Regions from separate parts of the Homo sapiens genome. Here region 1 is linked to region 2. The links come from fine-mapping of genetic effects on gene expression. A gene starts in region 2. The other region holds a variant in brackets. All regions are shown on one strand. Distances are from middle to middle. Region 1 has its middle 38 kb from the start of LINC01234. Region 2 holds the start of RBM19 (RNA binding motif protein 19).

Evidence for each region. PIP is the estimated chance that this variant, and not a neighbour inherited with it, causes the effect.
Region 1: its variant is fine-mapped to the expression of RBM19 in whole blood (TOPMed, PIP 0.95).

Annotation. Positions count from the first base shown.
Region 1 is chr12:113,808,549-113,813,926 of GRCh38, forward strand. No RefSeq gene overlaps it. Among named protein-coding and RNA genes, the nearest start is that of LINC01234, 38 kb to the left of the region's middle. The variant A/G (reference allele first, on the strand shown) is at 2,746.
Region 2 is chr12:113,964,260-113,969,637 of GRCh38, forward strand. It overlaps RBM19 (RNA binding motif protein 19), which reads right to left and starts at 2,066. Exons shown (of 24, transcript NM_016196.4): 1 at 1,933-2,066. The coding sequence starts at 1,968. RefSeq lists enhancers at 488-1,416, 1,417-2,344, 2,303-2,372.

The DNA.
Region 1 (5,378 bases), 160 kb before region 2:
CATAGTTCCAGAGTCCACAAGTCTGAAATCCAGGTGTGAGCACGGCTATGCTCCCCTGGAGGCTCTAGAGGATACTTCCTCGGCCCTTCCAGCTTCTGGTGGCTCCTGGCGTTCCTGGCCTTGGCTGCCTCGCTCTGGCCTCTGCCTTCTCTACCCATCATCAGAACCTACCCACTCTGCTACAACCACGGCTTCAAAGTCAGCCAGGGAGAGAACAGGTCGGGCTTCGTGGGGTGAGGGTGTTGTTTCTGCAGAGGTGGTGGAGGGCCGGCCACAAGGTTATCTATAAAAGTAACCAGAAGGTCCGCTAGAGGAATGCTTTTCCTGGGAGTGTGGGCTGCGGGGGCGTGTCCCTGAGTGTCAGGGTGTGGAGGGAGAGGAGGTGGCAGCTTCACAGGCAGCTGGGCATGGCTGCTCTCCTGCTCTTGGACCTTCAGGGGCTCTCTGCTGCCCTCAGGGTAAGTCCACCTCTCAGGGTAACCCCTACTCACCTCCTGGGACACAGTTTAGAAGCCACGTCTTTTGGGAAGCCCTCCCCACCCTTCCTTTGGACACCTGCCCCACTTCTCCTTTGGCACCATGACCACCTGTTACTTAGCCATCTCCCAACAGACTGTGAACTTTCACAGCAGCAGTGAGCCTACTGTGTTGTATGTTTGTTTGTTTTTGAGGCAGAGTCTCGCTCTGTCGCCCAGGCTGGAGTGCAGTGGTGCCATCTCAGCTCATTGCAACCTCCACCTCCCGGGCTCAAGTGATTCTCGTGCCTCCTGAGTAGCTGGGACTACAGGCGCCCGCCTCATACAAAAAATGCCCAGCTCATTTTTTGTATTTTTAGTAGAGACGGGGTTTTGCCATGTTGGCTAGACTGGTCTTGAACTCCTGACCTCAAGTGATCCACCCGCCTCAACCTCCCAAACTGCTGGGATTACAGGCGTGAGCCACAGCACCCAGCTAAGTTATGTATTTTAGTAGAGATGGGGTTTCACCATGTTGGCCAAGCTGGTCTCAAACTCCTGACCTCAAGTGATCTGCCCGCCTCAGCCTCTCAAAGTGCTGGGATTATAGGCATGAGTCACCGGGCCTGGCTGATCCTGTTGTGTTGATTGCTGGATCCCTGGCCGCCAGTTCAGGGCTGGCCAATAGGAGGTGCTCATTAAATGCTTGTAGAGCAAGGAAAGGGGACTCAGATGGTCTGCAGAGGGTTGAATGGTGACCTCCCCCAAAATATACGTCCACCTGGAACCTGTAAATATGACCTTATTTGGGAAAAAAGGGTCTTTGTACATATAACTAACGATCTTGAGATGAGATTATAGGTGCCAACTGTCCTCAGAAAAGAAAGGCAGGCTGGGCGTGGTGGCTCAGGCCTGTAATCCCAACACTTTGGGAAGCTGAGGCGGGTGGATCACCTGAGGCCAGGAGTTCAAGATCAGCCTGGCCAATGGTGAAACCTTGTCTCTACTAAAAATACAAAAATTAGTTGGGCGTGGTGGCGGGCACCTGTAATCTCAGCTACTCGGGAGGCAGAGGTTTCAGCGAGCCGAGATCGTGCCATTGCACTCCAGCGTGGGTGAGGGAGCAAGACTGTCTCAAAAATAAGTTGAGCAAGGATCCTCCCCTAGAGCCTTCGGAGGGAGCACGGCCCTGCCCACACCTGGATTTCAGACCTGTGGACTCCGGAACTGTGAGAGCACAACTTTCTGTTGCTTTAAGCCCCCCAGTTTGAGGTATTTTGTTACAGCAATCACAGGAATTAACATACTGCCCTATCAGAGAAAGCCTTTCTGAAGATCTGCGGAAAAGAAGGACGTTAGGGAAAAGCCAGCCTCTGTGTAGGTAACACTCCGAGGGTGCACTTGGTCAGACACGAGTGAATCTACACATGGGGCAAACTTGATGCCTTATTCCCCCAGCCCCCAAAATTGGCATTTTGTCTTAATGTGTAAGCAACAAGATCCACATGTTACTTTGGAGTTTTTCACTGACAACCAGCACTAGTGTCTAACACAGTGGGTTAAGAAAAGTGGGTTAACTTTTCTTGGTTTAAGAATGTGATGAGGCCAGGCATAGTGGCTCACACCTGTAATGCCAGAACTTTGGGAAGCCACGGCAGGAGGACTGCTTGAGCCCAGGAGTTTGAGGCCAGCCTGGGCAACATAGGGAGACCCCTTCCCTAAAAAAAATTAAAAAATTAGCCGAGCATGGTGGTGCATGCCTGTAGTCCCAGCTACTCAGAAGGCTGAGGCAAGAGGATGACTTGAGCCTGGGAGGTTGAGGCTGCAGTAAGCCATGATCACACTACTGCACTCCGGCCTGGGTGACACAGCAAGACCCTGTCTCAAAAAAAAAAAAAAAAGAAAAAAGAAAAAAAAAAACCCCAAAAATCTGATGAACACATTAGATTCATGAGTCTTTTTCTTTTTTCTTTAAAATACTTTAAGTTCTGGGATACATATGCAGAAAGTGCAGGTTTGTCACATAGGCATACATGTGCCATGGTGGTTTGCTGCACCCATCAACCCACCATCTACATTAGGTATTTCTCCTAATGCTATCCCTCCCTTAGCCCTCCACCCCCAACAGGTCCCGGTGTGTGATGTTCCCTTCCCTGTGTCCATGTGTCCTCATTGGTCAACTCCCACTTATGAGTGAGAACATGTGGTGTTTGGTTTTCTGTTCCTGTGTTATTTGGCTGAGAATGCTGGTTTCCAGCTTCATCCATGTCCCTGCAAAGGACATGAACTC[A/G]TTCTTTTTTACGGCTGTGATACATGAGTCTTTAAACAATGCTTATGTGGGGTTAGGTTCTAACGTCAGCTCAAAAGGTGGAAATCAAGGACAGTCAAATTGACCTTGAAAATGCCCTGGGAAGACCCCAGGCAGCACCCAACGATCAGTGGCTGAGGCTGCTGGCTGCCCCCAGCATTTGTTTTCCCGCTTCCTGTAGAAGGAGGGGCTGTATGTTTTGGGGAGCATATGGCTGCCCAAGAGAAAGACCATTTCCCAGCATCTCTTGCAGCTAGGCTCAACCAGGTGACCATATTCTGGTCAAAGTGACATGAGAATGCACAGGCTGTGTCCTTGAAGGGCAGGGCAAGCCCTCTTTTTCCTCCCCACTCCCAGTGACTGGGTGATGGCAGCACAGCGGGGTGCTGTCTGGGCCATGGAGGCGTGTCAGAGTGACAGTTCAGAGGGGCTGGGCCCCTGCTGCTGTCAGACCAGGCCTGTTCACCTTCCAACTGTCATGTGACAGAAATCCACCTCCATCTCATTTAAGCCCACTAATGTCTGGGTCTGTCACAGGAACCAACACATTCCCTGACCTATATACACTGTTGCTCTGGGAGGCGAACACAGCAGGCTGTCCCCCAGCACTGGGGCAGCTGCTGTTCTTTGGTTGAGCATTGGGTGAAGTTGTTGACTTGTGTTCAGGGTTCACAAAATACCTCGCAGCTCACAAAGACTGCAGTGAGATGCTTACACTATGAGGGTTGGGCAATTGAGCCTAGGAATATAAAATCCTGGGAGGTGGAGGGGTTAAGGGTGCCGGACTCCTCAGCCCCACATCTCAGCATCTCTGGGGAATGCAGTCTGAGAATCGTTCATGGGACGCAGTGTTTCCTGCTATCCCTTGCACGGACTGCCACATATCCAGCTTCCTGTCCTCTTCCACAAAGCCAGAGGGGAAGGAGAGGAGGGTCTTTGACTGTGGAGCCACAGCCTGGGAAAAGGGACTGCCTTCTTTCTGGAACATCGGCCACGGGCTGCTCCCCTCCTTTCCTGGAGCCTCAGTTTCCTCATCTGTGCCATGGCAGTGACAGCCCCTGCCTAGTGACTCAGCTCCCACCTGCGAAAGTGCTTTGTAAACTGCAGGTGTACAAGGTGGCAGCGATGTTATCGCCTGGAATCTTTTTGGGGACCAGGAGAAGGGAGGGCTCCTGACAGTTTCCAGGAAAGGCAGGAGCAGCTGCTATCCAGAAATCTGCACAACAAAATGTCTGCTATTGGCCTAAGCCCAAGGATGGGACATGGTGGCCCCAGTGGACCGCTTCCATGAAATCTGCAATTATGGGGAAGTGGGGCTTATTAAGGAAGCTGGAGGGGAATGCGGCCCTGGCTTCTAGCAATGCTATAATTAGATTGCAGGGCCCCTTTTACTTTGCTGACGATCCAGAAGGCCTTGGCCCGGGGCTTGTGCTGAAATACCCTGGCCTCCTGGGCAGCGGGTGATGGCCCAAGCCTGTCGGGGTGCAGAAGGACACTGCCTTTATGTTGGGGGGATGGGGTAACAACAGCTGAGGCTTGTGTAGTGCTCATGTGGGGCCGGCGCCATTCTCAGCCTTCACTTCATCCTGGCATCTGCAGGAGTCTGTCCTGTTCTCGGTTCACAGGTGAGAACACAGGCACAGAGAGGTCAAGGAGGTTGCTCAAGGTCACATTGTGGCTAAGTGGCAAAGTAGTAAAGAAGGGGTATGAATGATTGAAATCAGGGGTCGCCAAACCACAGCTCGTTTTTCTTTTTCCTGCTACTGTTGCCTGGTCTTGTCAATAAAGTTTTACTCAGCACATGTGCCGAGGCAGCATAGCAGAGGTGAAAGAGCCGGAACGGGGAATTCTGCCACAGTGTGACCTTGTAGAAGACACTCTGGGCTTTCTAATCTGTAAAATGATGGGGGTTTGCTTTAGATCGGGGTCACTGCACTTGATGCAAAGGGCCAGATGGTAAATATTTTAGGCTTTGCAGGTCATAAGGTCTCTGTTGCTACTCAACTCTGTTACATGCAGCAACTATTGACAATATGTAAACTAATGGGCATGGCTGTATTCCAATAAAACTTTATTCACAAAACCAGGCAACAGCAGCACAAAAAAAAAAAAAAAAAAAGAGGGCCATGGTTTGCCAACCCCTGATTTTGATCATTCACGTCGCTTCTTTACTACTTTGCCTCACGAAATTCATGTTTTTAATACTTTTCTTTATACGAATTCACCGGTATTCCTTAGAGCTTAGCAACACCATAGGTTTGATGACCTAAACAAATACAGGTTTGTATTTGTGGCATACATGTGAAAATAAACTTGTGAGTTAAAAATTAAAAAGAAAAGTGTGTGGGCCACCTAAACCATCTCCTGAAGCACAGAGGTCCGTGCTCTGTGCTTTGGGAGACATTTTTTAGTTCAATATATTTTTTTTCGAGATGGAGTCTCACTCTGTTGTCCAGGCTGGAGAGCAGTGGCACGATCTCGGCTCACTGCAACCTCTACCTCCCGGGTTCAAGTGATTCTCCTGCCTCAGCCTCCCGAGTAGCTGGGACTACAGGCACGTGCCACCATGCCCGGCTAATTTTTTATATTTTTAGTAGAGATGGGGTTTCACCATG
Region 2 (5,378 bases):
CGCTGTATCTTGGTTTCTTTACCTTTAAAATGGGCGTAAAAATAAAACTTACCTCACAGGGATATGGTGAGGATTAAATGTTACTTTACCTAAAGCACCTGGAACAGTGCCTGGCACACAGTAAACTCTCCAAGTGTCAGCTGCAACTGCCCTTGTTTTTATTATTCTTTCATTCATGAGATAAGACAAACAATGATAAGAGAGTCAACTACACTGTGAAGTGCAACAAAGCTGAATTTGGGAAGAAAAGGAAGTGCAGCCACGCTAAAAATCCTCATCGCACAAAGCAAGGCATCAAGAGACATGTCTAACCTGATGGATGGATGAGTAATAGATATTTTTAAGTATACTACTCAGAGATTATAACAGGATAATTAAAAACAAGAATATTACAGACACTGGAGAGGAGGAACAGATGATCTAAATTCCTTATTTTTCACAGTTGAGGCCTAGCAGATAGTCACTGGGGCAGGCAGGTCAAAAGGAGGAAAGTACACTCCTCAAATATACAGAGATACATGTGAGGAGTCCCAAAAACAAATCAATGAAGATGGTTACTCCTGGACAGAGAGGGAAGGTAGGACAGAGCAAAGACTTTGCTACTCATGTTATACACTACTATACTGTTTGAATTTTGAAAACTGTGTGTTACAAAGTTCCTTTGTCCCACCTGACAAATGAAAAAAAAAAAAGGAAAGGAAAAAACTCACAACATTAGAACAGAAATGGGGGCCAGGTGCAGTGGCTCACGCCTGTAATCCCAGCACTTTGGGAGGCCGAGGCGGTGGATCACCTGAGGTCAGGAGTTCGAGACCAACTTGTCCAACATGGCGAAACCCCATGTCTCTACTAAAAATAAAAAAATTAGTCGGGCTTGGTGGCGCGTGTCTGTAGTCCCAGCTACTTGGGAGGCTGAGGCAGGAGCATCGCTAGAACCCGGGAGGCAAAAGTTGCAGTGAGCCGAGACTGCCGAGATTGCTCCACCGCAGTCCAGCCTGGGAGACAGAGCCAGACTCCGTTTAAAAAAAAAAAACAAAAAAAGAAAAAAACAAAAAACAAAACCAAAAAAAGCCATGAAAGAGAGAGAAAAAAAAGAGATAAGACAAACAATGATAAGAGAATCAACTACACTTGAAACACAACAAAGCTGAATTTGGGAGGGAAAGGAAGTGCAGCTACGCTAAAAATCCTCATCCCACAAAGCGAGGCATCAAGAGACACTGTCTAACCTGATGGAAGGAGCAGTAATCCATTTAAAAACAAAAAAACAAAACAGAACAAAAAACAGCGAGAGAGAGAAAAAAGGATGATCCATTCGAGCCCACCGCATCTAATCATCTAATATTACGTACATTCACCTATTTTGCCTACCACGTGTCGGGTTCTGCGCTGGGCTCCAGGGAAACAAAAAAGTATGGCTGGGTCACCACTCCCCACTTACTGGATAAATGCTGTAAAGCCCTTTACCCACTCCGTATTCCTACTTGCCCTAAGGATGGGAGTGGGAATTGGAACGCAGGTCCGCAGATTAATATTCCCCATGTCTTCCCCAACAGTTTCCAGACTGGGAGAGGAATATAAATACAGTGTCGGACCATGTCCCGGGTCAACAACTAAAAAACAGTGATCGAATGAAAGAGGTTGTGGGAGCAGGGTATTCGCCACAAGGTGGGAGTTGTCATCTCCCCGAGAAGAGGTGTGTTAGGAGTCAGGTACCAAACAACCGGCCGTGAAACCGTAAGCAGTCACTATTCCTCTTTCCTCGGGATCAAATGGGGATAAGCCCAGGATCCCGCCCCCTTTGAGTTCAGAATTGGCCCGGAGTCCTGCCCCAGAGCAAAAATTCTTCGATCACCTCCAGGCATCTCTTCCCTACCTCACAGCTCCCGGCTGGTCTCATTTCAGATTCCCAAGTCCTGCCTCTGCACTCACCCCATTCGGGAGATTCTTCACGATCAGTCGCGACATGGCGCAGGGTCCCCGCTGTTTTGATTCCAACACGACTGGTCAGCGTCTTCCACCAAGTTTCACGCTACCGCCCTGGGCGCCGCCATCTTTACCGAGCCGGAACACAGTCACGTGGCTGAGACCTTGGCCTGACCTGTCCGGAAGTAGGCGTGGCTAATCCAAAACTACTCAGGGAGGTCACACCCCACAAGGGGTGGGCCTGGGCGCTTGCATTTTGCGCAGGCGCAGGGCCTTGGGCGGATTCTGTGAGACGCCAATGCAGCGGAGAAGGCGGCAGGGGGCGCCGGTCCCTAACATGCGCCGGTTTAGCTCGGTGTTAAGGGTCGCGCCAACCGGGCAATCGCGTTCTCTCCTTTTTCTTATTTTATTTTTATTATTGAGCCTTAGGACTCCCCTGAGAACGGGGGCAAGATTAGGGACCCTTGCCTTCCTCGTAGAAATGGGGAAAGTGAAGTTTAGAGAGATTGCCAGCCAACACAAATCAAGTATTGAGCCTTTTGTGTAAATACTTGGAATGAACATGTTGGAAATAAACGCTCTCATTTTGCAGGCAGATAAACTGGGAATCGTGCGTGTAAAGCAGCTTGCTCAAAGTCTTATAACTATGAATTGGAAAGTCAGATTCGAGCTAGGGACTGCCTAGGGCCCTACAATGAGTCTCTACGCCTTCAACCCCAGCCCCACAAGCATTTTGCCTCCCTTCCTAATGTTTGGAACTCTCAGCTGGCCAATCTTCTAGCTGAGAGATCTTGGCCAAAATGGCCTCTGAGCCTTTGTGTCTACTTCTATAAAATGGGAATAATTCTTTATTATGCTAGGGGTTAAGGAGGTGAGAACGTGAAAGGGATGTTATTTTCCTATTGCTTCTCTGAGCATTCTCGGTACCTACTCTTGGATGGAGACATCCTATGAAAACCCCTATTTTCACTCTTAAATGACGGTATTTCCTTTCTGTTTCCCCACAGTGCCTCAGCTGCACTGGACGTTGCTGCCAAGCTTCTGCAATTTCCTTCACCTAAAAGACATTCCGTCCCCCCTTCTTATTGTTAACAGCTTTATCACAAACCATGCAATTCACCCACTTAAAGTGCACAATTCAATGGTGCTGACTATATTTACAGAGGTGTGCAGCCATCACCACAATCAATGCTAGGACATTTTCATTACCCCCAAAGAAACACCACACCCTTTAGCTATAACCTTCCAATTCCTCCCTCTCCCTTCCCTCTGATAACCACTAATCTACTTTCCGTCTCTATGGATTTGTCTGTTATGGACATTTCATGTAAATGGAATAATACAATATGTAGTCTTTTGTAATTGACTTCTTTCACTTAGCATAATGTTTTCAAAGTTCTTCCATGTTGCAGCATGAATCAGCACTTTATTTATCTGTTTATTTATTTGAGACAGGGTCGGGCTCTGTCACCCCGACTGGAGTGCAGTGGCACAATCTCAGCTCACTGCAACCTCCGCCTCCCAGGCTCAAGCCATCCTCCCACCTCAGCCTCCTGAGCAGCTGGGACTACAGGCACATGCCACCATGCCTGGCTAATTTTTTTTTTTTGGTAATTTTTTGGTAGAGGCGAGGTTTCAACATGTTGCCCAGGCTGGTCTTGAACTCCTGGGCTCAAGCAATCCACCTGCCTTGAACTTTCAAAGTGCTGGGATTACAGACGTGAGCCACCACACTTTTTTTGCTGAATAGTATTACATATATGGATGTATTACATTTTATTTATTCATCAGTTGATGATGGACATTTGGGTTGTTTCCGCTTTGTGGCTACTGTGAATAATCTTGCCGTGAACATTTACCTGTAAGTTCCTGTGTGGGCATATGTTCTTATTTCTCTTGGATATATTCCTAGGAGTAGGATTGCCTGATCATATGGTAACTCTATGCTTAACCTTTTTAGAACCTGCTAACCTGTTATCCAAAGTGGCTTCCCCATTTTATATTCCTACCAGCGGTATATGAAGGTTCAAATATCTCCACATCTCCTCCAGTGTTTGTTATTGGGTCTTTATAATCATAGCCACTCTAGTGGGTGTACAGTGGTGACTCAATGTTTTGATTTGCATTTCCCCGATAACTAATGAAACAGCATCTTTCATGTGCTTTTGGCCACTGGAATATCTTTCTGAACCCATTCCCATCCCCTCTCTAAGACCAGCTCAAACATGGCATCCTCGAATATGCCTCTTTCCTACTGAGCCCCAAATGCAGGGAGCTCATGCATCTGCCACAGCATAAACCTACAGAACTCGCTGGTGAGGAGCGCACAGTGTAGGTTCAGAGTTATAGATGAGGCCACTTGTTCTTTCTACATTATGTTGCCATAGGGGCATCCTTAGATCCATCTTTGCAAAGCATCACACTGGGCACCAGGAGGAGACAGGTAATAGGAGTTCATTAAATGCTAATTGTAAATTAAGGTCTGTCCATTCAACAGAATTCTATGCAGTTGTTAAAAAACGGTAGGTATGTAGCTATAAATGTTTTTGAAGGAAATGCATCAGTCAGCAGGACACAGAGGTATACTCAAAAGGATTTAACAAAAGCAAATCTGGACAAAAAGCTATTTACAGAAGGGTGGGCAGTGTAGTGGGATGAATGATCCCCTGTCCCCTCACCACCACACACACTGGGGGCATCCTGACCCCTGGAAGCTGTAAATGTGACTTTATTTGCAAAAAAGTGTTGTATTAGTTTGTTCTCACGCTGCTAATGAAGACATACCTGAGACTGGGTAATTTATAAAGGAAAGAGATTTAATGGACTCACAGTTCCACATGGCTGGGGAGGCCTCACAATCATGGTGGAAGAGCAAGGGATGTCTTACCTGGTGGCAGGCAAAGAGAGAATGAGAACCAAGTGAAAGGCTTTCCCCTTATAAAACCATCAGATCTCGTGAGACTTATTCACTACCACGAAAACAGTATGGGGAAACCACCCCCATAATTCAATTATCTCCCACTGGGTCCCTCCCAGGACACGTGGGGATTATGGGAGCTACAATTCAAGATGAGATTTGGTGGGGACACAGCCAAACCATATCAAGGGTCTTTGCAAATGTACTTAAGGGTCTCAAAATGAGATCATCCTGAATTATCCTGGTAGACCCTAAATCCAATGACACATGTCCTTTTAAAGGACACACAGAGAACGTCATGTGTAGGTGGAGGTAGAGTCTGGAGTGATGCAGTCACAAGTCAACGAAGACCTGGAGCCACCAGAAGCTGAAAGAAGCAAGGAAGCGTTCTCCCTTGGAGGTTTTGGAGGGAGCATGGCCCTGCTGGTGCTTTGGGGGATTCTGGCCTCCAGAAATGTGAGAGAATAACTTTGCATTGTTATGCCATCTAATTTGTGGTAATTTGAGACAGCACCTGCAGCAAATGAATACAGGA